Linked DNA regions of Homo sapiens: all the other regions are linked to region 2. Evidence: fine-mapped expression QTL. A gene starts in region 2. Each other region holds a variant in brackets. All regions are shown on one strand. Distances are from middle to middle.

Region 1 (10,371 bases), 130 kb after region 2:
ATATGGCTAGCCAGTTTTCCCAGCACCATGTATTAAATAGGGAATCCTTTCCCCATTGCTTGTTTTTCTCAGGTTTGTCAAAGATCAGATAGTTGTAGACATGCGGCGTTATTTCTGAGGGCTCTGTTCTGTTCCATTGATCTATATCTCTGTTTTGGTACCAGTAACATTCTGTTTTGGTTACTGTAGCCTTGTAGTATAGTTGGAAGTCAGGTAGTGTGATGCCTCCAGCTTTGTTCTTTTGGCGTAGGACTGACTTGGCGATGTGGGCTCTTTTTTGGTGCCATATGAACTTTAAAGTAGTTATTCCAATTCTGTGAAGAAAGTCATTGGTAGCTTGATGGGGATGGCATTGAATCGGTAAATTACCTTGGGCAGTATGGCCATTTTCACGATACTGATTCTTCCTACTCATGAGCATGGAATGTTCTTCCATTTGTTTGTATCCTCTTTTATTTCACTGAGCAGTGGTTTGTAGTTCTCCTTGAAGAGGTCCTTTACATCCCTTGTAAGTTGGATTCCTAGGTATTTTATTCTCTTTGAAGCAATTGTGAATGGGAGTTCACTCATGATTTGGCTCTCTGTTGTTGGTGTATAAGAATGCTTGTGATTTTTGTACATTGATTTTGTATCCTGAAACTTTGCTGAAGTTGCTTATCAGCTTAAGGAGATTTTGGGCTGAGACAATGGGGTTTTCTAGATATACAATCATGTCGTCTGCAAACAGGGACAATTTGACTTCCTCTTTTCCTAATTGAATACCCTTTATTTCCTTCTCCTGCCTATTTGCCCTGGCCAGAACTTCCAACACTATGTTGAATAAGAGTGGTGAGAGAGGGCATCCCTGTCTTGTGCCCGTTTTCAAAGGGAACGCTTCCAGTTTTTGCCCATTCAGTATGATATTGGCTGTGGGGTTGTCATAGATAGCTCTTATTATTTTGAGATACGTCCCATCAATACCTAATTTATTGAGTTTTTAGCATGAAGGGTTGTTGAATTTTGTCAAAGGCCTTTTCTGCATCTATTGAGATAATCATGTGGTTTTGTCTTTGGTTCTGTTTATATGCTGGATTACTTTTATTGATTTGCGTATACTGAACCAGCCTTGCATCCCAGGGATGAAGCCCACTTGATCATGGTGGATAAGCTTTTTGATGTGCTGCTGGATTCGGTTTGCCAGTATTTTATTGAGGATTTTTGCATCAATGTTCATCAAGGATATTGGTCTAAAATTCTCTTATTTGGTTGTGTCTCTGCCCGGCTTTGGTATCAGGATGATGCTGGCCTCATAAAATGAGTTAGGGAGGATTCCCTCTTTTTCTATTGATTGGAATAGTTTCAGAAGGAATGGTACCAGCTCCTCCTTGTACCTCTGGTAGAATTCGGCTGTGAATCCATCTGGTCTTGGACTCTTTTTGGTTGGTAAGCTATTGATTATTGCCACAATTTCAGCTCCTGTTCTTGGTCTATTCAGAGATTCAACTTCTTCCTGGTTTAGTCTTGGGAGAGTGTATGTGTCGAGGAATTTATCCATTTCTTCTAGATTTTCTAGTTTATTTGCGTAGAGGTGTTTGTAGTATTCTCTGACGGTAGTTTGTATTTCTGTAGGATCAGTGGTGATATCCCCTTTATCATTTTTTATTGCATCTATTTGATTCTTCTTTTTTTCTTTATTAGTCTTGCTAGTGGTCTATCAATTTTGTTGATCCTTTCAAAAAACCAGCTCCTGGATTCGTTAATTTTTTGAAGGGTTTTTTTGTGTCTCTATTTCCTTCAGTTCTGCTCTGATTTTAGTTATTTCTTGCCTTCTGCTAGCTTTTGAATGTGTTTGCTCTTGCTTTTCTAGTTCTTTTAATTGTGATGTTAGGGTGTCAATTTTGGATCTTTCCTGCTTTCTCTTGTGGGCATTTAGTGCTATAAATTTCCCTCTACACACTGCTTTGAATGTGTCCCAGAGATTCTGGTATGTTGTGTCCTTGTTCTCGTTGGTTTCAAAGAACATCTTTATTTCTGCCTTCATTTCGTTATGTACCCAGTAGTCATTCAGGAGCAGGTTGTTCAGTTTCCATGTAGTTGAGCGGTTTTGAGTGAGATTCTTAATCCTGAGTTCTAGTTTGATTGCACTGTGGTCTGAGAGATAGTTTGTTATAATTTCTGTTCTTTTACATTTGCTGAGGAGAGCTTTACTTCCAAGTATGTGGTCAATTTTGGAATAGGTGTGGTGTGGTGCTGAAAAAAATGTATATTCTGTTGATTTGGGGTGGAGGGTTCTGTAGATGTCTATTAGGTCCGCTTGGTGCAGAGCTGAGTTCAATTCCTGGGTATCCTTGCTGACTTTCTGTCTCGTTGATCTGTCTAATGTTGACAGTGGGGTGTTAAAGTCTCCCATTATTAATGTGTGGGAGTCTAAGTCTCTTTGTAGGTCACTCAGGACTTGCTTTATGAATCTGGGTGCTCCTGTATTGGGTGCATATATATTTAGGATAGTTAGCTCTTCTTGTTGAATTGATCCCTTTACCATTATGTAATGGCCTTCTTTGTCTCTTTTGATCTTTGTTGGTTTAAAGTCTGTTTTATCAGAGGCTAGGATTGCAACCCCTGCCTTTTTTTGTTTTCCATTTGCTTGGTAGATCTTCCTCCATCCTTTTATTTTGAGCCTATGTGTGTCTCTGCACGTGAGATGGGTTTCCTGAATACAGCACACTGATGGGTCTTGACTCTTTATCCAATTTGCCAGTCTGTGTCTTTTAATTGGAGCATTTAATCCGTTTACATTTAAAGTTAATATTGTTATGTGTGAATTTGATCCTGTCATTATGATGTTAGCTGTTTATTTTGCTCGTTAGTTGATGCAGTTTCTTCCTAGTCTCGATGGTCTTTACATTTTGGCATGATTTTGCAGCGGCTGGTACCGGTTGTTCCTTTCCATGTTTAGTGCTTCCTTCAGGAGCTCTTTTAGGGCAGGCCTGGTGGTGACAAAATCTCTCAGCATTTGCTTCTCTGTAAAGTATTTTATTTCTCCTTCACTTACAAAGCTTAGTTTGGCTGGATATGAAATTCTGGGTTGAAAATTCTTTTCTTTAAGAATGTTGAATATTGGCCCCCACTCTCTTCTGGCTTGTAGAGTTTCTGCCGAGAGATCTGCTGTTAGTCTGATGGGCTTCCCTTTGAGGGTAACCCGACCTTTCTCGCTGGCTGCCCTTAACATTTTTTCCTTCGACTTTGGTGAATCTGACAATTATGTGTCTTGGAGTCGCTCTTCTCGAGGAGTATCTTTGTGGCGTTCTCTGTATTTCCTGAATCGGAATGTTGGCCTGCCTTGCTAGATTGGGGAAGTTCTCCTGGATAATATCCTGCAGTGTTTTCCAACTTGGTTCCATTCTCCCTGTCACTTTCAGGTACACCAATCAGACGTAGATTTGGTCTTTTCACATAGTCCCATATTTCTTGGAGGCTTTGCTCGTTTCTTTTTATTCTTTTTTGTCTAAACTTCCCTTCTCGCTTCATTTTATTCATTTCATTTTCCATCGCTGATACCCTTTCTTCCAGTTGATCGCATGGGCTCCTGAGGCTTCTGCATTCTTCACGTAGTTCTCGAGCCTTGGTTTTCAGCTCCATCAGCTCCTTTAAGCACTTCTCTGTATTGGTTATTCTAGTTATACAATCTTCTAAATTTTTTTCAAAGTTTTCAACTTCTTTGCCTTTGGTTTGAATTTCCTCCCGTAGCTCAGAGTAATTTGATCGTCTGAGGCCTTCTTCTCTCAGCTCGTCAAAGTCATTCTCCGTCCAGCTTTGTTCCG[T/C]TGCTGGTGAGGAACTTTGTTCCTTTGGAGGAGGAGAGGCGCTCTGCTTTTTAGAGTTTCCAGTTTTTCTGCTCTGTTTTTTCCCCATCTTTTTGGTTTTATCTACTTTTGGTCTTTGATGATGGTGATGTACAGATGGGTTTTTGGTGTGGATGTCCTTTCTGTTTGTTAGTTTTCCTTCTAACAGACAGGACCCTCAGCTGCAGGTCTGTTGAAGTACCCGGCCGTGTGAGGTGTCAGTCTGACCCTGCTGGGGGGTGCCCCCCAGTTAGGCTGCTCAGGGGTCAGGGATCAGGGGTCAGGGACCCACTTGAGGAGGCAGTCTGCCCGTTCTCAGATCTCCAGCTGCGTGCTGGGAGAACCACTGCTCTCTTCAAAGCTCAGATGGAAATGCAGAAATCACCCGTCTTCTGCGTCGCTCACGCTGGGAGCTGTAGACCGGAGCTGCTCCTATTCGGCCACCTTGGCTCCTCCCGTCTTTTTTCTGGATAGTCTTTAATTGGGAATCTAATAAACCATTTGTAACCCAGATCTTAACAATAAACAAATGATTTCCAATGCTTTACTAAATTTCTTCACAGACCAATGTTAAAACCACTTAGGCAGTAATGATGTCATTTGGTAAAATGGGATTTTTTTTTTTTTTGGGGGGACAGAATCTAGCTCTGTCACCCAGGCTAGAGTGTAGTGGCGTGATCTCAGCTCACTGCAACTTCTGCCTCCCGGGTTCAAACAATTCTCCTGCCTCAGCCTCCTAAGTAGCTGGGGCTACAGGCATGCACTACCACACCCAGCTAATATTTGTATTTTTAGCAGAGACGGGGTTTCTCCATGTCGGCCAGGCTGGTCTCAAACTCTTAACCTCAGGTGATCTGCCCGCCTCGGCCTCCCAAAGTGCTGGGATTACAGGCATGAGCTACTGCGCCCAGACAGGACCTTTTTTTTTTTGAGACAGGGTCTTGCTCTGTCACCCAGGCTGGAGTGCAGTGGCTCATTGCACAATCATAGCTCATTGCAGCCTCAACCTCCCAGGCCCAAGAGATCCTCTCGCCTCAGCCTCCTGAGTAGCTGGGACTACAGGTGTGCACCTCTATGCCCGGTGAATTTTTTAAACTTTTAGTAGAGGCAAGGTCTCACTATGTTGCCCAGCCTGGTCTCGAACTCCTGAGCTCAAGCCATCCTCTAGCCTAGGCCTCCCAAAATGCTGGGATTACAGGTGTGAGCTACCGCTCCCAGCCGTAAATTGGGATCTTGCTCAAAATCTAGTCCTTCCCTTATATTTGGGCTCAAAATATATTTTTTTGAATGACAGGTCAGAATAAAAAATTGATGGTGGTTTAAGAATCTATTACCTATTTCCTTTGAATCATATATTATTAAGAATATTGGTCATATAGGCGACACGTTTACTCTAGCAGATTTTCTTTTTGTCTGAGATGGGGTCTCACTCTGTCACCCAGGCTAGAGCGCAGTGGCACAATCACAGGTCACTGCAACCTCTGCCTCCTGGGCTCAGGCCATCCTCCCACCTCACCCTCCCAAGTTGCTGGGACTACAGGCACCTGCCACCATGCCTGGCTAATTTTTTGTTTTTTGTAGAGATGGGGTTTTGCCATGTTGCCCAGGCTGGTCTCAAACTCTGGGGCTCAAGCAGTCCACCCTCCTCAGCCTCCCAAAGTGCTGGGATTACAGGCATGAGCCATGACATCTGTCAATTCCTTTTTTTTTTTTTTTTTTTTAATAGAGAGAGAGTCTCGATCTGTTGCCTAGGCTGGACTGCAGTGTGTAATTATGGCTCACTGGAGCCTCGAACTCCTGGACTCAAGTGATCCTTCCACTTCAGCCTCCTGAATAGCTAGGATTGCAGGCATGTACCACCATGCCCAACTGTTTTTTAAACTTTTTTTTGTAGAGATGGGGTCTCACTCTGTCACCCAGGCTAGAGTGCAGTGGCACAATCACAGCTCACTGCAACCTCTGCCTCCTGGGCTCAGGCCATCCTCTCTATGTTGACCAAACTGATCTCAAACTCCTAGGCTCAGCCTCCCAAAGTGCTGGGATTACAGGTGTGAGCCACCACGCCCACCCTCAATAATTTCTTTCTTTTTTTTTTTTTTTTTGAGACAGTCTCGCTCTGTCAGCCAGGCTGGAGTGCAGTGGCACGATCTCGACTCACTGCAACCTCTGCCTCCCGGGCTCAAGCAATTCTCCTGCCTCAGCCTCCCGAGTAGCTGGGATTACAGGGGTGTGCCACCACACCTGGCTAATTTTTGTATTTTTAGTAGAGACAGGGTTTCACCTTGTTAGCAAGGCTGGTCTTGAACTCCTGACCTCAGGTAATCCACCCGCCTTGGCCTTCTGAAGTGCTGGGATCATAGGCGTGAGCCACCGTGCCCGGCCCCCACCCTCAATAATTTCTAAAAAGGAAAATTATTTTTCCCACTCACCTTTTCCAGATCAAGTTCCTTTAAAAGAATACTCGCATTCTTATTTGCTTCTGCAGCTTGCTGGTCTTTAGCCTTCACAATGGTTTCGACACATTGATGACATTTTTTCAACAGTTCCTACAGCAGGAAATAGAATTATGTAAATATATAATGAAAGAGGCCAAATAAAACTTAAGCTGATGAGCACATTAAAGTCCAGAGGTTAAAGTTCAAACTGAAAAGTCACTAAACCAAATTAAGTTATCCTTTGAGTCCAATCTTTCACAAAAATAAGACACCATTTCCCTAAAAACCTGCATGTCCTTAGGAAGCCTTCTCATTAGGCTAATGGTTTAGTACCTTAGTGTAGTCACTGTGACTATGGTCCACAGTAGAAATCTCAAAATAGTTTATCAAAAGTATTATACCCCTCTATTTTGCAAATGGAGAAACAAACGCATAAAGAGATCAGGTGACCAACCTTTCAGAATATAAAAAGAACAAGTTCCTAACTGCACACTTTGGCATATCATTCCACAAAGAACAAAAATGTGCTTCAGTAGCATATTAAACTTACCTTATCTGTAATTGTTGCTATGTATCTCATGCATTCTATATCAGAAGGGAACTGATTTACTTCCTTTACCAAATATTGAACAACTTTTACATGACCCTATAAGAAGTACAACAATCTTAGACAAGGTAGCATGAAAAGAAAAATTATTATTCTTAAGAATAAAAGAAAGTAAAACAACAGAATTACAAAGGAATCCCTTGATTTTGCATATATGCCTACCAATTTAAGAATAAAAAGGCAAATACTTCCAAATAGAATATTAAGCTTAAAATTAAAATTATAAAAATAAGATCAGCATTCAGCTTATAAAAAGAAAGGCATAAAAGACAAGAATGTGTGCTCAGGAATGGATGGTGGACTAGACAACATTTCTCCTGAATTTAATCCCACTGAAATTAGAAAAAGCTTTTGTAGAAAAACAGTATCTCCTAGAATAAATCTATTAAACAAACATTGGTGATGTAAAATGAACCTCAGTGTAAAAGGGAAATGAGTCCTAAAATAAGTAATTTTTTTTTAAATTTCAAAGTCTTACTTTGCCTCTACTTCACTAACTAAACAAGGTGGACTATCACAACTTTCTGAGCCTTAGGACTTGAATCTAAATAAAACACTTTCTAAATGCCATTATCAAGGGTTGAAAGATCTGTAATCAATTCTAAGCATATCTTTTTTTTTTTTTTTTTGAGATGGGAGTCTCGCTGTTGTTGCCCCGGCTGGAGTGCCACGGCACGCTCTTGTCTCACTGCAACCTCCGCCTCCCGGGTTCTAGCAACTCTCCTGCCTCAGCCTCCGGAGTAGCTGAGATTACAGGTGCCTACCATCACGCCTGGCTAATTTTTGTATTTTTAGTAGAGACGGGGATTTACCATGTTGGCCAGGCTGGTCTTGAACTCCTGACCTCAGGTGATCCACCTGACTCGGCCTCCCAAAGTGCTGGGATTATGGGCGTGAGCCACCGCACCCGGCCAGCATATCTATTTTAATGTAACCAAGCTTGCATAGTTTCCCTTCCTACCAAGGTTCTAAAACATCCTTAAGAATTAGTGTGATGGAGATACAAATCAGAGAAATGCTTGCCTCTGGGGCAGGGAAGTGACTAAAAGTGGGCAAGAGGGAACCTTCTAGGGTTACAGAAATAATTTATATGTTTATGGGGTATGGGTTACATGTATGTATACGTTTATCAAAACTAAACCATGTACCTTAAGATTCATGCATTTCACTATATGTAAATTGCACTGTGCTAAACAACTGGGTATATAAACAGTGCTGAAAAAGATGGTCATGACTCTTGTCCTCATGGACCTACCAGTCTAGTTGGCGAGACAGGCATTAAAATGGTAAGTACATGTTTGAAGATATAATTACAAATTGGGGTAAGGAAAATCAAAACTCAACTATAAAAGAGAAACAGAGGGACCTTTTTCAGATTTGGTGTTAGAGAAATACTCTTTGAGAACTGACATGTAAAATTGGAGCTAACAGATGAGTAGAGAGGTGAGCTAGGTGAACAGCAAAGGAAATCATTTCAGGAAAAGAAAATCAGTGAGCAAAGGCCCTGAGGCAGTTGAAAATTTAGTGCATTCTAGGCCAGTAACTAGAAAACAGTGAGCAAAAGGGGATAGTAGCATAAATGATTTGTATGGGGAGGTTGACATGAAGCTTATTATGCAGGTCTTTACATGCCCTACTAAGTAGTTTATAGTTTGGGAAGCTATACCAATGGGAAGGCTTTTAAAAATACAGCAGATAAGTGAACTTTAATATATATGAGAGGCCGGGCATGAACTTTAATATATATGAGAGGCATGGCTCACGCCCATATCTCAGCACTTTGGCAGGCAGAGGTGGGAGAATCGCTGAGCCCAGGAGTTTGAGACCAGCCTGGGCAACATAGCAAGACCTCGTCTCTACAAAAAGTAAAAATAAAAAAAATCTGAGCATGGTAGTGACACCTGTGGTCCCAGCTACTCAGGAGGCTGAGGCGGGAGGATCAATTGAGCCTGGGAGGTTGAGGCTATAGTGAGCTATGATCATGCCACTGCACTCCAGCCTGGTTGACAGACTGAGACCGTTTCATACTCACACACACACACACACACGCACACAGAAGATACAGTAAGTTTTTATGAAAGTCTACTCCTTTTTGTTCCTCTTTAGGCACAAAAAAATCCATCTGCATATAATAGTTTTTCTTAAATCTTCTGTTTCATGAACAATGTATCACAAATAGTCAAGACACCAAGTGATTTAACAACCAAGTTGCTTATAGTGAACTACCACATAGATCTTAGATTTGGCCACAAAAGAATGGAAAGATAAGGTCGGGAGCCTGTAATCCTAGCACTTTGGGAGGCTGAGGCAGGCAGATCACAAAGTCAGGAGTTTGAGACCAGCCTGACCAACGTGGTGACACCCCATCTCTACTAAAAATACAAAAATTAGCCGGGTGTGGTGACGCATGCCTGTAATCCCAGCTACTCAGGAGGCTGAGGCAGGAGAATCACTTGAACCTGGGAGGCAGAGGTTGCAGTGAGCCGCGATCATGCCACTGCATTCTAGCCTATGTGACAGAGTAAGACTCCGTCTCAAAAAAAAAAAAAAAAAAAAAGAATGGAAAGATAGCAGTGATTTTTCTATGGAAATATACTCAATTCTCCAAGATAAACTTATCTTTCTCACATGGTTTTAACTTAGAATTGGCTTAAAATTGACCTTTCTTCCCCCATATCAAATTACCTTGCGAAATGCTGACATAAGAGGTGTGATTTTCCGGTTATCTGCTGCATCCACATCAGCACCTGCTTGCACTAGCAACTGCACAACATCAAAATGACCTCCATTGGATGCCAGCCAAAGTGGCGTATTTCCCTTTTTGTTACGAACATCAATGTGGGCTCCCCTGTAAACAAGGCATATTAATAGTTTGTTTCCTGTAAGAAGAGGCTGGCTTTTTCTAGTTTTCTCTATCTTCTTCTTTTACAAAATAACTTGCAAATAATCTTTTCTTAACAATATCAATAAAGTAAAACAATGTTATTAACTTTAAAAGCTCTGAAAAGTGAAAATGACCATGAGAAGTTCTACATATAATAGAAAAGTACTCACCTATGAATCAGGAGTTCACAAAATTTGTAGTGACCTTTGTCTGCTGCTATTGTTAAAGCAGTATCTCTTGAGGAAGGCACAGGGGGAGCATTAACATCTGCTCCTTTATCAAGAAGAACTCTTCCAACCTCTGCATACCCTCCAGAAGCTGCTTCCATCAAGGGGGTAAGACCCGTCTGTTTAAACCAATAAATTATGCAACTAAGTTACATTTCTTTTTTTAACTATTCCGTAGACCAAAACTAAGCTACATAATTTCTTTAAAAACCTGAGGCAATTAACTTTTAAGACAATTCTAGTTCTGATTAGCTCTCATAAAAGAGCTAAGCAATATTTTGCCTTGAATTTTACTAAACAGCAGTAGAAATTGTTAGATTCAGACGTGCTAGAATGAACTTAAAACATGTTATCTCATGCTAAAAACAATTCTGTAACTTCTATACTTTTGTGAATTTAC
Region 2 (10,371 bases):
AGAGGCCACATAAGAACAGTACTGTCCAGGCGTGGTGGATCACGCCTGTAATCCCAGTACTCTGGGAGGTCAAGGCGGACAGATCACAAGGTCAGGAGTTTGAGACCAGCCTGGTGGATATGGTGAAACCCCATCTCTACTAAAAATACAAAAATTAGCTGGGCATGGTGGTGGGCGCCTGTAGTCCCAGCTACTCGGGAGGCTGAGGCAAGAGAATCGCCTGAACATGGGAGGCGGAGGCTGCAGTGAGCTGAGATCGCGCTACTGCACTCCAGCCTGGGCAACAAGAGCAAGACTCTGTCTCCAAAAAAAAAAAAAGGGGGTGGGGGAAAGGGGGTTGGGGGGCCAGGTGCGGTGGCTCACGCCTGTAATCCCAGCACTTCAGCAGGCCGAGGCGGGTGGATCATGAGGTCAGATCGAGACCAGCCTGGCTAACACGGTGAAACCCTGTCTCTACTAAAAATACAAAAAATTAGCCGGGCGTGGTGGCGGGCGCCTGTAGTCCCAGCTACTCGGGAGGCTGAGGCAGGAGAATGGCATGAACCTGGGAGGCGGAGCTTGCCATGAGCCAAGATCGTGCCACTGCAGTCCAGCCTGGGTGACAGAGCGAGACTCCATCTCAAAAAAAAAAAAAAAAAAGAACAGCCCTTTGTGGGTGGCAAATGCCTCTGAAATCGCTTATTGTAGGCTCCAGGGCAGGAAAGTAAGAGGAAGAGTTCACATTGTATTTGCATGACTCTCGGATGCTGAGGGAACCATGCCCTGTTCCCTCAGTACTCACGCCTCAGCAGTGGGGCCAACAGCCCTATAGTTAGCTGTGGTGCTGATAAGCTCGGTTTCTTCATAATCTTTGTTCACTCCATCTCTCCGTTCCTTGGCACGATCCCGGTACTTCTCTGCTAGCTCTCTCTCTCTCTCAATTTCTTGTTGGCGTAGCTTGGCATAATAACTGTGACCAGAGAAAGGCAAATGTATAAGGCTCATCAGCTGCTACCTCAAGGTCAACAGAACTGTTCCTGCTTGCTTCCCTACATCTCCAACCTACTCTCTATGGGGAAAAGCTCATGTCTGTCCTGATAGAACTGCTGGCCACCTCTTCGTAGTTACTCAAAATCAGAACTACAACTTCTTCCAGCTTATAGATATACTTTTCCAGTGCCAACTTGGGACACTCCATCTGTCACTTCAGAACTTTTTAATACCACCCAACTCTACCAATTCTCTATAGATATAAGACTTTTCCACACAAAAATCAGAAAATCTTCTGAATTTTTACCACCTTCTAAATTTCAGCTGAAAAGAACGTATTATTTGCTGGTCCACTCTCAGAATAAAGGAAAAGCCAAGTACCAGGTCCTGAAACTTTCGTATCATATAAATAACGATGATGATATAATAATGATGATGGCCGTCAAGATTTATTGGGTGGTTACCATATGCCAGGCATTGGTGCTAAATGCCTACATGTACTTTCACAGCTGATCCTCATGACATCCTGATAAAAGTTATTATTGCTACTGTATCTCCATTCTATCTGTGGATTAGAGAGGCTAAGCAAATGTCTAGGTTATCCACCAAGAAACTAGCGAAGATGAGATTAAAATATAGATAGGCCTATTCCAAAGCCCTCTACTGCCACTCTAAGTATCACTCTGTTTCATTAAGAAAGTAGAGAGCCTCAAGACAAAATCTTAGTTTCTAGCTTCATAATTAGCCCCTACTTCTTTCCCCTAAACACTATCCACCTTAAAATCTAAAACCCTTCACCCTTCCTTCACCTTTTCTTTTTCCTCCTTCGTGCAGCTGGGTCTTCATCCTCATTGTACTCCCTTGGCATCCTAGAAGAGACGAGAAATTCACTGATAGCAAAATATTGCCACAGCCCCAGAAACCCCAAGAAGTCTCCTTGAGGATTTTTAGAAAGACCTAGAATACTGATCAAAGTAACACTTTCAATCAAGCAGAAATCCACACCAATATTTGTAGGTGGGCAGTTCTCAAACTTTAGAGAGTATCATAAATACCTGAGGGACTATTAAAAGTCATTCTACTTAGTAGAAAGAAATAGGAAGGAGCAAGAAACAAGTTGGGAGACAGGTTGGATCACCCAAAGACTTACTCATGGTGACGTGACTTAGAAGGTGGTGCAGAGGTAGGTGCAGCCCTGGGGGTCATGAGAAGTTTCCTGAAGTCTTCATTGGTGAGTTTTGATCTAGAAGAAAAGGCAAAGATTTTAAATATTAGGACTCAATAAGAAATGAAAAAGGAACAAGTAAAAATCATGATTAAATTAACAGAAATCAGGGAAATACAAATTAAAACAAAGATATGACACTGTTTTTTTTTTTTTGAGACGGAGTCTCACTGTCACCCATATTGGCCAGGCTGGTCTTGAACTCCTGACCTTGTGATCCACCCACCTCGGCCTCCCAAAGTGCTGGGATTATAGGGATGAGCCACCGCACCCAGCTTTTTTTTTTTTTTTTTAAGACAGAGTCTCCCTCTGTTGCCCCGGCTGGAGTGCAGTGGCATGATCTCAGCCCACTGCAACCTCTGCCTCCTGGGTTCAAGTAATTCTCCTGCCTCAGCCTCACAAGTAGCTGGGAATACAGGTGCCCGCCAACACACCCAGCTAATTTTTGTATTTTTATTAGAGGTGTTGGCCAGGCTGGTCCCAAACTTCTGACCTCAGGTGATCTGCCCACCTCAGCCTCCCAAAGTGCTGGGATTATAGGTGTAAGCCACCACGCCCGACCAGATATGCCATGCCACTTTTAATGCATCAGAGTGTTAACTACCAGAAAGTTTGATAAATCAAGTGTGAGTGAGAATTTGGGAAGGGGACTCTCTCATATAATGCTGATGAGAATGTAAACCAGTATAACCAATTTGAAGGGCAATTTTGCAGTATTTGTTAAAATTTAAGTATATATATCCTATGAGCCAGCAACTCCATTTATTTATATTTAGCCTGGTCCATTACTGACATATGTATATAAGAAGGCCTGTAAATTTAATTCAGTTATAGCCTTGAAAATAATCAGTCTGGCCGGGTGCAGTGGCTCACACCTATAATCGCCGCACTTTGGGAGGCTGACGCAGGCGGATCACCCGAGGTCAGGAGTTCAAGACCAGCATGGCCAACATGGTGATATCCCATCTCTACTAAAAATACAAAAAAATTAGCTGGGCGTTGTGGTGGGCGCCTGTAATCCTAGCTACTCAGGAGGCTGAGGCAGGAAAATCGCTTGAACCTGGGAGGCGGAGTTTGCAGTGAGCCGAGATCTAGGTATTACACTCCAGCCTGGGCAAAAAGAGCAAGACTCTGTCTCAAAAAAATAAAAAAAAGAAAAGAATCAGTCTGAAACAGACTAAGCGTTTATTAGCTGGAGACTGACTAAACTATGATGGTGTTTCCCAAAGAGGGAAAGACAGCACTAATGGTACAAGAGATTATTTTAATTGGTACACTAACAAAGACTCCTCTCTTGATCAAATTAAAGTCAGACTCCTTTAAAGCTCTCTTCTGACTAGGGCTCTTCCTTGGCCTGCTGACCTCAGTTTTAAAAAGGAATCCTAAGTCAGTTCACAGAAAGTTTTCCCACTCTTGATATCCAATCCAACTTGATATCTAATCAAGTTCCTCTTCTCCCCAAGGAAGACTTTATTGAAGACTACTGTAACAAGAGTCAAGACCATTGTAATAGAGTAGAGAGACTGAACTTAATTCCGAATACAACAGGGACAAGTGAGAATTTATAGAAAATTACTAAAAGCAACTTGGTTAGGTATGGGGGTGGAGCGGTGGTTGATTTCTTTGTTAAAACTGTGCTCAGCAGGCCACGGATGAGTCCTGCTGAAAAATGGGACTCTTTGGGGAACCTGACTAAAGTTTAGCCAAGGAGGGAATGCTTGTCACTGCTCTGAAAGATAATCTCAGAAACACTGAGCAGGGTTTAAAAAGAAGCAAGTTGCAAAAATGATATATACAGCATAATATCATTTAACTCAAATATTTTAAATCACAAAGCAATGTTGTGTTTTCCTCAGATATGCATGTATGTGTATAAATGCATTTAAAAAAGAGTAGGAGGGCCAGGCGCAGTGGCTCACGCCTGTAATCCCAGCACTTTGGGCCGCCGAGACGGGCAGATCATTTGAGGTCAGGAGTTCAAGACCAGCCTGGCCAACATAGCGAAACCCTGTCTCTACTAATACAAAAATTAGCCAAGCATGGTGGGGCATGCCTGTAATCCCAGCTACTGGGGAAACTGAGGCAGAAGAATTGCTTGAGCCCAGGAGGCAAAGGTTGCTGTGAGCAGAAATAATGCCATTGAACTCCAGCCTGGGCAACGGGAGGAAAAGATATGCCAAAAAAGGTAACTGTGGTTACTTCTAAGAAAAGGACTGAGGCTGGGCACGGTGGCTCACGCCTGTAATGCCAGCACTTTAGGAGGCTGAGGCGGGTGGATCACTTCAGGCCAGGAGTTCAAGACCAGCCTGACGAACACAGTGAAACCCTGTCTCTACTAAAAATACAAAAAAAAAAATCAGTCGTGCATGGTGGCACATGCCTGTAGTCCCAGCTACTTGGGAGGCTGAGGCAGGAGAACCGCTTGAACTCAGGAGGCAGAGGTTGCAGTGAGCCAAGATTGCATCACTGCACTCCAGCCTGGGTAACAGTGAGACTCCGTCTCAAAAAAAAAAAAAAAGAAAGAAAAGAAAAGAAAAGAAAAAAAAAAAGAAATGGACTGGAATTGGGGATGTTATCAAAGATGATTTTATCGGGGGCCAGGCACGGTGGCTCACGCCTGTACTCCCACCACTTTGGGAGGCAGAGGCGGGTGGATCACCTGAAGTCGGGATTTCAAGACCAGCCTGATCAACATGGAGAAACCCCATCTCTACTAAAAATACAAAATTAGCCGGGCGTAGTGGAACATGCCTGTAATCCCAGCTACTCGGAAGGCTGAGGCAGGAGAATTGCTTGAACCCGGGAGGCGGAGGTTGTGGTGAGCCGAGATCGCACCACTGCATTCCAGCCTGAGCAACAAGAGCGAAACTCAGTCTCAAAAAAAATAAAAAGATGATTTTACCCTTATTTCCTATGTTTTAATTTGCTATTGGAAGAAGTAATTCCTATATAATGTGTAATTACACAACACGTATAAAAAAAAAAAAAAACTTAACACCTTTCCTGCAGGAATTTCCCTTCTAATACCCTTATGCACTTGGCCTGATCCAGTTAAGGCTCACAGAGATAAAGGGCCAGCGGGTATAATTTTTTACCATCCTTGATGACAAGACATTCAGAATTCTTTCACCATCACCACCACTTTTCTATTCATTGCCCAACTCATTTCCATGGTCCTAGCACAAAATACTCACTGGTGGAAGGAGTGAGGATCATCCACATCGTGGCCATCGGGGGCCAAAGGGTTGGAGAACGGCTCACCTGACAAAAAAAATTGACGTTAATTTAATCAGTCTCTTACGTGTCAGATCCTATGCAAAAATTTGAGATATAGTAGTGAACAATACAGAACAAAAGTTAGAACAGCGACAGTGTCAACACAATGTAATAAGTGCTGAAATAGGAAACTACAAGAAGCTGTGGGAGCACAAAGCAGAGGACCCTAATCCTGCGCTGGAGGATCAGAGAAGACTTCCGGAAGATCACGTCTAAAATACTACGTAAAAGATAAATACGCGCAACCCAGGATTAAGTATGGGGACAGGACTGGGGGAAAGCGATCCACGCACAAAAGCCGCCCATCATCACTTGGAGTAGGAGTGAGGACTGGGGACGGAGTTTGGAGCTGTCGGCCTCACTTAGGACCCTGTGGCTTCTCCGGGCTCAAGCGTCACACATACATACATACACACACACACACACACACACACACACACACACACACCCGGCTTAAGCTCAGAAGCTACAATAATGCGCCAAGTGCCCCAAGTGCCATGGGGAAGAAATAACGGATGGCCTGAGCCTTACTATCTCGCTCCGGCATTTTGTTATCGTTCTTTCGCTGTCACCAACAATCGAGTCTCCAACAGCAACACCGCAGCGACAAGCTCTTTCCCACAGTGCACCTCAGAATCAACCCACACTGCTTTGCGTTCGCAGCCTTTCCGCTTCCTGTTTTTCCCTCCGACCAACCCCGAGCGCAAAGAAATTGACCTCGCAGCGGTCCTACAATACTTTTATATCATTGGCCAAGCTTTACCCCGCCCCTGCCTCATGCAGCCTATGGGCTAGGCTTTAGGGTCCGCGGTTGGTCAGACCGGAGCACTTGGCCTGAAGACCTGGAATTGGCGACTTCGATATTAACAAGGATGGCGGCGGCCGCAGCAAGTCGAGGAGTCGGGGCAAAGCTGGGCCTGCGTGAGATTCGCATCCACTTATGTCAGCGCTCGCCCGGCAGCCAGGGCGTCAGGTGAGGCGCGGCGTGGTGAGGCGGGCGGGCTTCGGGACGCCAGGGTCACGACCTCGACCTCCCTGAAGTTGAGGGAAGCCCCCGCCCACAGCACGCGCGGCGCTCTCTCCGGCCCCGCAGGGACTTCATTGAGAAACGCTACGTGGAGCTGAAGAAGGCGAATCCCGACCTACCCATCCTAATCCGCGAATGCTCCGATGTGCAGCCCAAGCTCTGGGCCCGCTACGGTGAGTGCGGGACGCCAGGGGTCTGGGGCTCCGGTAGGGGAACAAGGGTTTGAGAAGAGAAGGGACCGCCCAAGGTCGTGCAGAAACCCGTGGAGAAACTAGAACTCGGACTTTAGCCTTGCTGTTGATCTTGTTTCCATGAAGAAATTTATATTCGCAGGGTTATATGATGCGTTGTATTCCGGGCAACATAAGTATGCAGGCTGACCGAATCCTGCGTAGGGACCAGGAGCTGACGTTTTTGTAGTTAAGAATGGGCTTCAGACAGGAGAGAAGTTAGTCAATATAGTTTCTCCAAATAACGTGTAGCCAGTGTCAGTCCAGGTAGTGTGTGAGAATCTCAGTAATTTTGCACATAGAGCTGGGCCCTGTGCTGAGTGCTTCCCTGCCTAACTCATTTAATCTTCATTAGTTAGGAGGAAGCGTGTTCTTCTTTTCTCACTGTAGAGATTAGAAAACGGAATCAAAACTTTGTTTTGCACTATTGTTAAACTCTAGCTGCAACTTTAGATGCAGCTAGAGTTTAACAGGATTGAGCCTTTACATTTATTCCCCTTCCTAGAATGCACTTACCCCTCTAAGACTGGCATGGCAATGTATTGCAAAATGAAATTTTCCTATCATGTTGCCTAACACATTGTAGGTATGCAATAAATGTTTATACATACTGAATAACAGGATTTTAATCACAGCTTTTAACTATATGGTGCCCTGGGAATGACGGGAGGAGGTGGAGGAGAGTGACCACCTTAAGCAGATTGGTTCTCAGAGTAGATATCTGTGAGACACAGTAGACATTAGACATGCACTAATAATTGGAGAAGGAAAAAAGCTTCTCCTTCCAAAAGCCAGTAGACTACAGGAGGAGATAGACACGAGTAACTTTAGTGTATTGTGCTGGGTATTATGTTAGATAGCCTATGGGAGCCTAGAGAATGGGTACCCAGCTGGGTGCGGTGGTTCACGCCTGTAATCCCAGCACTTTGGGAGGCTGAAGCAGGTGGATCACCTGAGGTCAGGAGTTCAAGACCAGCCTGGCCAACATGGTAAAACCCCGTCTCTACTAAACATACAAAAATTAGCCGGGTGTGGTGGCGGGCACCTGTAATCCCAGCTACTCAGGAGGCTGAGGCAGGAGAATTGCTTGAACCCAGGAGGTGGAGGTTGCAGTGAGTGGAGATCGTGCCACCACACTCCAGCCTGGGTGACAGAGCGAGACTCCGTCTCAAAAAAAAAAAAAAAAAAAGAGAGAGAATGGGCTCCCAGCTGAGGCTGGACCCATGCAATACATTGCTCACCGTAGTTAATAATAAATGCCTACAGTGCCCCCGAAAGCTTCCCTGAAACAACCCATTGCGGCCATCCAGAATCAGCCAAAATTCTATTTGGACTTGGGCTTCCTAGATGTGTTTGAGACCTATTGTATTAATTCTAGGCATACCAAATGTATTTTGATCATATCTCTTTAATACTCTTCCTGTCTTAACAAGACTAAGATAAAGACAAAGATCTTTTATTTTACTTTGGTAGCCTCCAGGGTGCAGAATAGTTAAAGACACCTCCCTCTCTCTCTTCAGCATTTGGCCAAGAGACGAATGTCCCTTTGAACAACTTCAGTGCTGATCAGGTAACCAGAGCCCTGGAGAACGTTCTAAGTGGTAAAGCCTGAAGCCTCCACTGAGGATTAAGAGCAACAGCCCCAGAGCCTGGGCTCTGCTGGACTTAGTATAATGTGAAAAAAATGTGTTCTCCTATTCCTCATAAAGCTTGTGCTGTAAAATACTTTCTCAGGGTGTTCTTGTCCTCATCTACCCTCTACCCCTTACTGTGCAACCACTGAGGCAAAGTAGCTTAATATAAAAATAAAACTTTATTCTGTCTCATCAAAAGCTACCAGCTGCTGAAGCAAACATGAAGGGTGGCGGGGGGGCAGGGATTCTAGGGCCCCAGAGTAAGTAGACCACACTGAGTCCCTTTTGGTCCTCCTGCCTGGATAGTGCTGAGTGGAAGGGGAGGAGCTGGGACCCAAAGGTCTTGGCTTAGGTGTGGGAGCAGAGAACATGAGACCTCATTATGGTCCTAAATCTCCAAAGGCTCTACTGGACAAACAAGCTTGATGTTAAGAGAGAGGGGAATGAGTGACATTGAGAAACAAGATCACCCTTGAAGAGCTGTCTGCTGGAGAGCATACACACGATCCTGGAGCTGGGCCTCTTCCTGATGCCTTTCCAGGGCTTGCAGCCCTGACTGCTGCAGGAAGACCTGAACAGCCTAGGGGCAGGGAAGAAAATTCAACACACCTGGTCTCTGTGTCCTAAGACTCAATTCCCACAGCCTCATGGGTCAGCCTACTCCAGAGGGTGCATTCCCCAACAAGAGGATGAAGTTTCTGACATGGAACCTATATAGGTTAGCCAGGCCCAGAGAAACAACTATAGTTAGGACTGGATGGGAAGGGAGCCACTGTGTGGCTTCAGAACAGGGGTGACTGAGGATGTGGGCCAGAAACCTATACCTCTGGCTGATACAGGAACAGCAGATGCAGCAGCTCCAAACTCTGGCCTACTACTTCAGTGTCAGAAAAGGCTAGTGTGTGCAGCAAGGCGGGAAGCAGGGGCCCTGGCCACAGCCGCTGGCAGTAAGCAGGACCCTTTTCTGCAACATTGCACAGAACTGTGAGCACCTGCAGATAGACACATATATAGTCTACAAAGAATGAAACACAAAGATCATAACAATAGCTAAAATATATGACATGGTGACCACATGCCCAGGCACCATGCCAAGCTCTTCTACATACATGTTCTCATACTCCTACAACTACCCTATGATGCAAGATTATCCTCAGTTATAAGTGAGGAGACTGAAGCTTAAGGTGGTTAGTTGATTTGTCCAAGGATAAATAATCCAGTTTAAGGGACACACACCTAGATTGGTTGGGCCCTGAGGCCACACACCACCACCTGCTGGCTCTCAACTAAGGGTACATCTGAGGGCTCAGGACTGCTGTCCCATACAATCCGACTACCAGATCTTGGATTCAAGTAACCCCAATACATACCATTACGCTCACCACGTTAGATACTGGCAACAGCTGTAAGAGAGGCTCAATCAGATCCAGGGAGAGCAAGGAGGTACAGAAACTAGGACTGTTTGCTGGAAGAGAAGTACCAGGGTGAAAAACTGCTTTCCCCCACCACCCCTGTCAATACTACCCACCTCAGCCTAGGCCATGAGGAAATATCCCCATTATCCAAATGTCCAGGCCTGGGCAGATTATGGTGCGTACCAGTGAGGTTGTTGAGGAGCCAAAGGCCCTCAGGGAGCAGACTGGGCTGTTTCTGGAAAAAGAACTGCAGAAGGATAAATAAGGCTGCCACAACACGCTCATCTCTGAGCTGCATTTGCCCTCCCACAGTCTCCACTGCTGCCTCAGTTAGCAGGTTGCTTAGACATCGAAGCACGGGGCATGCCAGCTGCAAAGACAAATTGGGGGGTCAGGTGTAAGAAGGAAGAGGTTACCTGCATTCCAGAGTATCAAGAAACATCTCCCAGAATTTCACCTGACATCTTCACCTACCAGCTCCAGTCCTGCATCCTCGGTTTTCTGGACAGCCCCAGCCAAGTCCAACAGCAGCAACCCCAGAGTAGACAGAGCCCCATGGCCAATGAGCAGAGGATTGCTGACCTGGCTGGGCAAC
Region 3 (10,371 bases), 160 kb before region 2:
GTGACACATATACACCATGGAAGACTATGCAGCCGTAAAAAAGGGTGAGTTCATGTCCTTTGTAGAGACATGGATGAAGCTGGAAACCGTCATTCTGAGCAAACTATCACAAGCACAGAAAACCAAACACTGCATGTTCTCACTCATAGGTGGGAATTGAACAACGAGAGCACTTGGACACAGGGTGGGGAACATCACACACTGGGGCCTGTTGAGGTGTGGGGGACTGGGGGAGGGATAGCATTAGGAGAAATACCTAATGTAAATGATGAGTTGATGGGTGCAGCAAACGAACATGGCACACATGTATACCTATGTAACAAACCTGCACGTTGTGCACATGTATCCTAGAACTTAAAGTATAATAAAAATAATAAGAAGAAATAAAAATAAATCTTGACCCCTACCTCACAACAATGATAAAAATATGTATATTCCAAATGGATTGTAGATGTAATGTAAACAATGAAATAAAAGATACCACAGAAAATTATCTTTGTGAAATAGGATCAGAAGCAAAAATTGATAAATTGAGTTTAATCAAAATTATGACTTTCTATTCACCAAAAGACAAAAAAGAATTAAAAACTAGCCATGAGGTTGAAAACTACTAAAAAAAGGAGTTATGTTCAGAATACAAGATTTGTTTAAGTAATAAGAAAAACAAGATAAGGAAATAAATAAAGTTCTATGGAAGCAAAAAGAAGAGAAAAAAGAAAAGAAAAACAACAGACTAGAGAAATAGGAGATTTGAGCAGCTATTGCACAAAATAAGGTATAAAAATTGCCAAAATAAAATAGAAAGGTACTCAACTTCATTTAAATATAAAATAATTTCAAAATGAGATTACAAAAGTCACCCAGTAAAATGGCTAACATGAAAATAACCTGACAAATGTAGAGATGATGTGGCCCAGCAGAAAGCCTTATGCACTACTAGGAATGTAAACAGGTAAAAACATCTTGGAAAATTGGTTGGTGTTAGCTACAAAAGACAAAGATACACACATATTCTGTGACCCACAAACACAACTCTTAGGCAAAAACCTGAGAGAAATCTGTGTACATGGGCATCAAAGAAATGTACAATATATTTATGATGGCATTATTTGAAATAGACATTGAGGCACAATGCAAATTCCTGAACAGTAGAATAAATAAGGTATAGTATATTTATGAAATAGTACTAGAAACAGAAATAAATAAACTACAACTACATATAACAACATGGATAATTTCATAAACAATGAGTGATAAATACAAATAACACACAAATGCACAGACAATACATGTTGTGCAAGTCCAATTAGATAACGTTCCCAAAACAGGCCCCGAACAAACAGTTATAAAAGGCAAATGTGCGGTTACACTGGAGGAAAAATAAGGGAAGTGATTTGGCAGGTGCATGCGAGGGGCTTCAGCGATGGAGGCAACGGAGCTTTTCACTTTCATACAATTTATGGAGCTTTATTATTTCAGCCTGTGCACATTTGTTTATATGTAATAGGTTAAATAATAGTAAAATGTTTTCTAAAATGTTGATTATTACCAAAAACAAAGAGGGTGAATATAGTGAAAATTTACTAGAAATTACAGTTCTGTTAATATGCATTGAATAATGCAGCATAAAATGAAGGAAGGCAATATATATTGCTCTGATGTCCTATAATTCCAAAAGACTTTAGTTAAAATGGATATGTAAAAAGAGGTAAAATTTTAACCCAGGGAAATTTGACTCTTAGAAATAAATTTACGAAGAAGTTGATAGAGAAAAACAATACGAAAATTAAACAAAAGGATGTTATACACTAACCTTTGCAAAGGATTCCTCAGTTGTCTGCAGCTGATCTTCTCTGTCCCTAGAGTCAGGTAAACTGGGGCTGAAGGCCATGAGGTCGGTCTTGGGTGGGCCCTCACCAGAGCACACCCTCGGCCTCCTCTGCTGCGAGTATGACCAGCTCCCCACCGCACTGGAGCACACCAGCGTGGGCTTGCCCGGAGCGCACGCGCCCTCGGTGGGCAGCGCAGAGCACCGCAGCGCGGTGTACAGCAGCAGCGTGAGCACCAAAAGGCTGGACACCGCGCAGATGGCAATGATCAGGTATACGTTGACATCCACCAGCGCAGCATCGGGACCCACAGCGCCCACCAACGCCCGTGAGGAGGCCTTTGGCGCCTGTCCACTCTCCACAAGTGACACCAGCACAGTGGCCGTGGCCGTCAGCGCGGGCTCGCCGTGGTCCTTCACCAGTACCAGTAGGCGGTGGCGCGGAGCGTCCGTTTCGTCCAGGGCACGCGTTGTGCTGATCTCGCCAGTGTACAGCCCCACGCGGAACGGGATGCGCGCGCCACCAGTCCCCGGCTGCAGCTCGTACGAAAGCCACGCGTTGTAGCCCGAGTCAGCATCCACCGCGCGCACCTTTGCCACCACGTGGCCCACACCCACCGACCATGGCACCAGCTCGCTCACTGCGCCACCAGTGCCACCCGCCCGAGGCGCTAGCAGTGCTGGCGCGTTGTCGTTTTCGTCCAGCACGAACACCTGCAGCGTCACGTTGCTGCCCAGAGGTGGCACGCCGGCATCGCGAGCGGTCACCTGAAACTGCAGCAGCTCTAGCTCCTCGTGGTCCAGCGGCTGCAGCGCGTACACCTTGCCGCTCTCCGCATGCACCGAAACGTAGCTCGACAGCGCGCGCTCCCCTACCCGCCGCTCTACCAGCGAGTAGGACACCAGCGCGTTCTCCTGCGCGTCCGCGTCCCACGCAGACACAGTGAAGATGTGGCAGCCCGGCGGGTTGTTCTCCTTCACGAACACTGTGTACTCGGGCTGCGCGAACGCCGGAGCGTTGTCGTTCACATCAGCCACCTCCACAGAAACACTGGCCGTGGCCCACAGCGAAGGCGAGCCCCCGTCTCGCGCGGTCACCACCAGCTCATAGGCTGACACGCTCTCGCGGTCCAGGGCACTGTCCAGCACCAACGAGTAGTAATTCTTGAAGGTGGACACCAGCTTGAAGGGGACGTGGGACGTCAAGGAGCAGGTGACCAGCCCATTGACACCCATGTCTTTGTCGGACACGCTGATCAGGGCGATGACTGTACCCAGTGGAGCGTCCTCTCTAATTGGAAGTGATAAAGACTTGAATTCCAAATCTGGGACATTATCGTTGTTGTCTTCTACTTCCACAATAACTCTACAATGGCCAGAAAGTGGGAGCTGTCCCTTATCAATGCCCTCTACAATAATTTCATAGGATTTGCTTTCTTCAAAGTCAATATATCCCTTTACAATAATTTGTCCAGTAATTGGATCTATGTGAAACTTGGATTTCACATTTGGCGAAATATCATTTGAGAATGAATAAACAATGTCCCCATTCAATCCTTCGTCTAAATCTGAGGCGTTAAGTTTAATTACCAATGTTCCATTAGGAACATTTTCTAGTAATCTCACCTTATAAATGGTTCTGTCAAAAGCTGGGGCATTGTCATTGGCATCCAGTACTGTGATGAGTAACTGAACGGTGCCAGTCAACTCGGGTTTGCCTCCATCAGTGGCTGTGAGCACTAAAAAAATCTCCGGAGCTTCTTCTCTGTCTAAAGATTTCCGTAATATAAGCCCAAGACCTTTTACCAGCTCGTCATCAGGTGGTTTTTCCAGAGAAAAGTATTCATTTGGGCTCAGTCTGTAAGTGAGCAGGGCGTTCTCCCCGATATCTGCATCCGAGGCGCCCTCTAGTGGAAACCGAGAGTCAAGCGGCCTGGATTCCGCGATGGACAGGTTCTTTTGTGTTGCTGGGAACACCGGCGGGTTATCGTTAATGTCCCTCACCTCCACGTCCACATGGAAAACCTGCAGCGGCCTGTCTACGATCACCTCCAGGTGGATGCTGCACTCCGCGCTCCGCCGGCACAGCTCCTCCCGGTCGATCCGAGAATTCACAAACAAAATGCCATTCTGCAGATTTACCTCCAGAAGGCCTCCGCGGCCCTTGGACGCCACCCGGAACAGGCGCGGCACCAGCTCCGCCAGCTCCAGTCCCAGGTCCTGCGCGATGCGGCCCACGAAGGTGCCGTGTTTGGCCTCCTCGGAGACCGAGTAGTGGAGCTGACCGTTCCCTGCCTCCCAGGCTGCGAGGAGAAGAAGTAAGAGCAGCAGACGCCGGGATTCCTGGCCGCTTCCCCAGGAAAACTCCATCTTTAGTGCACAGTATTTTGTTCTGATTAAATATCGTTTCTCAAAGTCAAGGGAAATCTTTTAATCGGTCAGTCAAGTGCAGCTGCATCCTCCATATTTCAGACTCCAAAGAGTGTATATGGTTCCTTCCAGTAAGAATAGAAGGAATTTTCCCTTCTTCCTCCTTCTCTCATGTATTTTGTGGTAAAGAGCGACATCATGTGGCTCCAAACCGTAAGTAGCAATTGTGGAAACCCCCACACACTCTACTGTAAACTACTTGGTTTTATTTATTATTTCAGTCGTTTCGGAGAATAGGAATACATTTTGTACTACTGTGGTACACATTGTACCA[C/G]TGATTGATTGAGTGTGGTCCTTAGTTTCGCCATAGGGGCAACTTTTACTTCAGTAGAAATAATTTTTTCAACACAGGTTTTAAGTATTACAGAGACCTAACTATACACTTTGTAAACATGTAACTGTAAACTGTTGATTAGAAAAATTCATTACAGATTCCTGTGTTCCCAAGAATTCCAGGGTTTTTTTTTATTAATGATAACACCCTCTTCACCCTAGTATTTCTGGTGTTGTTGACTTGAGGGGACTGGTCTCTAGGGAACTTCTGGTGCCAAGAACAAGCTATTGACAGGGAAATTTGCAGATGTTTTATAAAAGGATCAAAGACCATCAGCATTTAATTAGATGTCTTCCTTGAGTCATGTCAGGGCTGAAAGTGCAAGGAAGCAGGAAGTTATAGCAAATAGCTTGCATGGAAAAGCATTCCAAATAATTTTATTCATTGGAACTCATTTGCTCCCATGAGAAACGCTGGTATTCTCATTTTGACTCTTACAGTTTATAAGTACTTGCTTGTTCTCCAGTATGTAATGTGCCTAAGCTTCTATTTTCTCCTATAGTGCTTATATATTTTAGCCAAACTGAATATTTCCTGCTTCCAATAGCTTTTTTTAATAAACAAGCATGTTCATTTTGTCCTGTCTATAAGTAATCCACATCATTTCTAAACTCTTCTAAAGCCAATTTACCCCATTTTATAACCACTTAAAACTTCCCTGACCCATGAAGAATGTCATGATCAAACCAATTGAACAGGTATTTTTTCTTCTTTTACAAACTGCAGCACCAGGGTGGAATCGCGTGGGCCATTTATTACATTAATTTATCTCTTATAAGCATTTGAGTATGTGTGTCCTTTTTTGGAATATATATTTTAAAGGGAATAGTTGTATCTTAATTGTTTAATAGCTCAGAGGGACTTACCTAATATTTCCTAAATATTTACCCTGCAGAAAATGTTTGCTTCCTTCCATTGCCTAATAAAATGCATTAATTTAAGGTGATCGCATATCTAGTTGGGAAAATGTGGTGTTTCAATAGCCTCTATGATTTTCTAAAGATACAAAAAAAGTCTCTAGACATTTCCCCAATTAAGATGTATTTCAAGTTCAATGTTGAAAACTTGGGTTTTAGCTTAATTTTTATTCTAATTCTTGGTAATCATGATCTTTGAATCATCCTGGGTATTAATGGGGAATGAAGACTTCCCAATAAATAAACCACAATACATTTTCTTACATAAAGAAATTTAATATATAAAGACATAATGGTAGCCATTTAAAAACTTTCCTTGCCTCCTATATCCATAAAGTTATTTTCATCCTGTTTGTCTAAACAAAAAATCAATCTAGTGAAAATAGCTTTACGCTCCCTCTCTATTGAAGAACTACACTCACACAAACACACACACACAAAAACCAAAACAACAACAAAAAACCCACCAAATTTCTGAATCAAACAGAAACCAGAGTACTTTCACTATGTGGGGACCCAAACTATATTTTTACAAAATGATCATTGACATCAAGCACATTGGAAAAAAGGAGGAAGAATTCCATTTTCACCCATTTCATTTGTAATATTTTCATTTACCAGGTATTTTAATGTACAGATGGGGAATGCAGCAGAATAGAAAACAATGTTTATTTGGTAGCTATTCAATATTTATTTGGCATAGCATCAGTACATCTGTGAAGTGAAAATTCCAAAGTCTTCAAAATGTCTTTGCCAAGAGTCTTGTTAGACAATAGTTTCAAGAGGCAAGCTGGATTTGAAGATTGAAGTTCCATATCTGGGAAGACAAGTACTTTGGCTGACTCTATTATATTCAAGAAGCTGATAACAGAACTAAATTTTTAAAATACTGACCTGAGATGGACACACTATGGCTACTACTTCATGGACAAGGGAGCAACAAAGGATAGTGCCAAAAAAGGAAATAAAGAAAATGGAAGTGAGGGGAAGGAGAGGAGTCAAGAAAAATATCTATTTTACGTGTTAGACCTCCCACACTGTCAATGAGTATTAACCAGGTTTCAGTTGGTTACTATTTCTCTCCAGTGGTAGGGAAACTTAAATGGGAGTCCAACTAATTGCTAGAGGAGATAACCAAATATGTAGGGGTAGTGATTAGAAAAAAGTCTACCTTCAATTTCATTTGGTTCTGGTTATTTGGAGTTTTCTACTTATTGCATGGCACACATTAATAGGCAGGATGCTATTCAGAGAAGTTAACCAGTAATAACATTATAACATTGGCTTATCAAACTTATTTCATATTAGCATCCTTAGTATGGTATGCAAAAGACACTAATGAATAAAAAGTTTTGCTAGTAGGGATAGTTTTAAAATTAGATACCATAATTATTTTCAAGATATTGTTCAGATTGAAAATTATTTTTAACAAGATTTAAAACATTCTTTTAAAATGAATATATAAATATACTATACAACTATTAAATTTTCACTTCATATTGATATTTTAGTTATTAGTAATAAATTTTAACATATAATACAGTAGTATTATTAAAGTAGTATTAAATAAAGTAGTGATAAACTAAAGATGAACAAAGATGCAATTCTAAATGCAATTGTTATTCTCGATTTTTTTCCCAACTGGGAAATCAAGAAACAATAAACGGTATTGCCAAATTAGAGCACAAGGCCTAAAATGAATCATATTCAAGTAAAAAATAAGGATTGAGACTCCAAACAAGTGAATAAGAGAATAAAAGAGGTTCCATAAAAGACAACAGGTGTAATGATCTAATTTTTGAAACTGAAGGTGGAAAAGCATAATCAATAGGGAGTTATAAGCATTAGGTGAACTCATAAAATGAGCAAGTAACATTTGTACTAACAGGTAGTAGGAAGTCCAAATGAAAAGTGGCAAAAGATATTGAAGAAGCATTGTATAGGGATAAGTATAAAACAAGTCGAAGTCAGATTCTCTAAATAATGCAATTCATCTAAGAAAAAATATTTGTCTTATACCCAGGCATTTAGCAATAAAATAATTCTACTACTGCACCTAATAACAAAACAAAATTACAAGTGTGGATATCATAACTTACTGCTGATTTGGTTCAAAAATTAGCAACAAAAATCTTACCGTTTTAACCACAAAACCACAAAACTGGAAAAGTCTAATTATGAATCACATAATTCATACTTAACTATTAATGTATTTCCAGAGGAGTGGAAACATTGAGGAATGAAAAACAAAGACATTTTGGAAAGAATAAATAAAAATTACTCACTTTGGCTGAGAGATCAACGTCCACATCCTGTTTCTCCTCTCTATCCCGGCTAATTGGACAAGGAGGAAGGCTAGGGCTAAAAGCCATGAGGTCGGTCTTGGGCAACCCCTCTCCAGAGCACACCCTCTGCTGCCTCTGCTGCGAGTATGACCAGCTCCCCACCGCGCTGGAGCACACCAGCGTGGGCTTGCCCGGCCCACAGTCGCCTTCGGTTGGCGGCGCGGAGCACCGCAGAGCAGTATATAGCAGCAGTGTGAGCACCAACAGACTGGACACCGCGCAGATGGCGACGATCAAGTACACGTTGACATCCACCAGTGCAGCTTCCGGGCCCGTGGCGCCAGCGGACGCCTGGGACGAGGCCTTGGGTGCCTGGCCACTCTCCACCAGCGACACCAGCACAGTGGCCGTGGCGGTCAATGAGGGTTCACCGTGGTCCTTCACCAGCACCAGTAGGCGATGGCGCGGGGCGTCCACCTCGTCCAGGGCACGGGTCGTGCTGATCTCTCCCGTGTACAGCCCCACGCGAAACGGGATGCGCGCACCGCCGGTCCCAGGCTGCAGCTCATACGAAAGCCACGCGTTGTAGCCTGAGTCTGCATCCACTGCGCGCACCTTCGCTACCACGTGGCCCGCACCCACTGACCGCGGCACCAGCTCGCTCACTGCGCCACCGATGCCACCCACCCGAGGCATCAGCAGTGCCGGCGCGTTGTCGTTCTCGTCCAGCACGAACACCTGCAGCGTCACGTTGCTGCCCAGAGGCGGCACGCCCGCATCGCGCGCACTCACCTGGAACTGCAGCAGCTCTAGCTCCTCGTGGTCCAGCGGCTGCAGCGCGTACACCTTGCCGCTCTCCGCGTGTACCGACACGTAGCTCGACAGCGCGCGCTCCCCCACCCGCCGTTCCACCAGCGAGTAGGACACCAGGGCGTTCTCCTGCGCGTCCGCGTCCCGCGCAGACACCGTGAAGATGTGGCAGCCCGGCGGGTTGTTCTCCTTCACGAACACCGTGTACTCGGACTGCGAGAATGCCGGCGCATTGTCGTTCACGTCGGCCACCTCCACGGACACGCTGGCCGTGGCCCACAGTGAAGGCGAGCCCCCGTCCCGAGCAGTCACCACCAGCTCATAGGCCGACACGCTCTCGCGGTCCAGAGGGCTGTCCAGCACCAATGAGTAGTAATTCTTGAAGGTGGACACCAGCTTGAAGGGGACGTGGGGCGTCAGCGAGCAGGTGACCTGTCCATTGACTCCTGAGTCGCGGTCGGACACGCTGATCAGAGCGATGACTGTGCTAAGTGGAGAGTCTTCTAATACAGGTAAAGATAGTGATTGAATAACTAACTCAGGTACATTATCATTGATGTCCACAATTTCGAGTAGAACTGTGCAGTGATCTGACATTGGGGGATTTCCTTTATCCGTGGCTTCTACCTGGATTTCATATGACTTACTTTCCTCGAAATCTATGTTACCCTTTACACTGATTTGTCCATTGACTGGATCTAAATGGAATTTTGACAGAATATCTGCTGACATGTCCGTATTGAAAGAATACGCGATATCCTTATTTACTCCTTCATCCAAATCGGTGGCGTTAACGGTCACCACTAGGGTACCATTTGGTGCATTTTCGAGTAATCTGACTTTATAGATCGTCCTCTCAAACGCTGGGGCGTTGTCGTTTACATCTAAAACAGTGATCTTTAGTTGAGTCGTGCCAGTGAGCTCTGGTTTCCCACCATCAATTGCTGTTATTAGTAAATAATGCTTAGGAGTGTCCTCTCGATTTAAATTTTTTTTCAACACGAGTCCAAGGGATTTAATTTCCTCATCATTTCTTTTAACGTCCAAGGTAAAATATTCAGTGGAATCAAGACTGTAAGTCAACAACGAATTTGTTCCGATATCTGCATCTGATGCGCCCTCTAGCGAAAACCGAGAGCCAGGCTGTCGGGATTCGGAAATAAACAGATTCTTTACAGCCATTGGAAAAACTGGCGCGTTGTCATTAATGTCCTTCACTTCCACCTCCACATGGAAAACCTGCAGCGGCCTGTCCACGATCACCTCCAGGTGGATGCTGCACTCCGCGCTCCGCCCGCACAGTTCCTCGCGGTCTATCCGAGAATTCACAAACAAAATGCCATTCTGCAGATTTACCTCCAGAAGGTCCCCGTGTCTTTTGGACGCCACCCGGAACAGGCGCGGCACCAGCTCCGCCAGCTCCAGCCCCAGGTCCTGCGCGATGCGGCCCACGAAGGTGCCATGCTTGGCCTCCTCAGAGACGGAGTAGTGGAGCTGGCCGCTCCCCACCTCCGAGGCTGCGAGGAGCAGAAGAGAAAGCAGCAGGCACTGGGCTCCAGGATCTTCTCGCCAGGAGAACAACATTGCAAGTATTTTCCAAATATTAGATTGCCTTTACATTGATCCAAAGTTTAAAAATAATTCGAGTTCCTTATCTTCATTTCTTAAACTCCTCGGTGTTAAATTTTAGAGAGGATGAAGCAAAGCAGTATCTGAATACGTAATGCACGCTGTTATTTCTTTTGTGGAGAAAGACCTTGTGGTGGA

Alleles and levels. Positions count from the first base shown, and alleles are read on the strand shown. Sizes are in standard deviations (SD) of each study's normalised expression. Not every link is listed here.
In carriers of allele G in region 3, the expression in skeletal muscle of the gene that starts at base 6,097 in region 2 tends to be lower than with C alone (small effect, 0.25 SD a copy in FUSION).

What was found. PIP is the estimated chance that this variant, and not a neighbour inherited with it, causes the effect. A credible set is the group of variants that fine-mapping cannot tell apart.
Region 1: its variant is the best candidate, but not a certain one, in a credible set for the expression of IK in fibroblasts (GTEx, PIP 0.59).
Region 3: its variant is the best candidate, but not a certain one, in a credible set for the expression of IK in skeletal muscle (FUSION, PIP 0.56).

The regions. Positions count from the first base shown.
Region 1 is chr5:140,509,356-140,519,726 of GRCh38, reverse strand. It overlaps ANKHD1-EIF4EBP3 (ANKHD1-EIF4EBP3 readthrough), which reads right to left. Exons shown (of 36, transcript NM_020690.6): 21 at 9,915-10,090; 22 at 9,546-9,708; 23 at 6,804-6,899; 24 at 6,248-6,364. It overlaps ANKHD1 (ankyrin repeat and KH domain containing 1), which reads right to left. Exons shown (of 34, transcript NM_017747.3): 21 at 9,915-10,090; 22 at 9,546-9,708; 23 at 6,804-6,899; 24 at 6,248-6,364. Among named protein-coding and RNA genes, the nearest start is that of EIF4EBP3, 33 kb to the left of the region's middle. The variant T/C (reference allele first, on the strand shown) is at 3,801.
Region 2 is chr5:140,643,555-140,653,925 of GRCh38, reverse strand. It overlaps IK (IK cytokine), which reads right to left and starts at 6,097. Exons shown (of 20, transcript NM_006083.4): 1 at 6,002-6,097; 2 at 5,389-5,455; 3 at 2,120-2,212; 4 at 1,779-1,838; 5 at 782-949. The coding sequence starts at 6,017. It overlaps NDUFA2 (NADH:ubiquinone oxidoreductase subunit A2), which reads left to right and starts at 6,296. Exons shown (of 3, transcript NM_002488.5): 1 at 6,296-6,443; 2 at 6,564-6,670; 3 at 8,248-8,641. The coding sequence starts at 6,343. The coding sequence ends at 8,339. It overlaps MIR3655 (microRNA 3655), which reads right to left and starts at 6,082; the gene lies at 6,000-6,082. TMCO6 (transmembrane and coiled-coil domains 6) reads right to left here. Exons shown (of 12, transcript NM_018502.5): 8 at 10,251-10,362; 9 at 9,960-10,146; 10 at 9,732-9,826; 11 at 9,186-9,353; 12 at 8,522-8,941. The coding sequence ends at 8,828. RefSeq lists enhancers at 6,023-6,558, 6,299-6,718.
Region 3 is chr5:140,801,015-140,811,385 of GRCh38, reverse strand. All of the region lies in intron 1 of PCDHA1 (protocadherin alpha 1), which reads right to left. The region is part of intron 1 of PCDHA2 (protocadherin alpha 2); the gene reads right to left. PCDHA3 (protocadherin alpha 3) reads right to left here and starts at 10,329. Exons shown (of 4, transcript NM_018906.3): 1 at 7,795-10,329. The coding sequence starts at 10,188. PCDHA4 (protocadherin alpha 4) reads right to left here and starts at 4,318. Exons shown (of 4, transcript NM_018907.4): 1 at 1,814-4,318. The coding sequence starts at 4,198. It also overlaps PCDHA@. The variant C/G (reference allele first, on the strand shown) is at 4,533.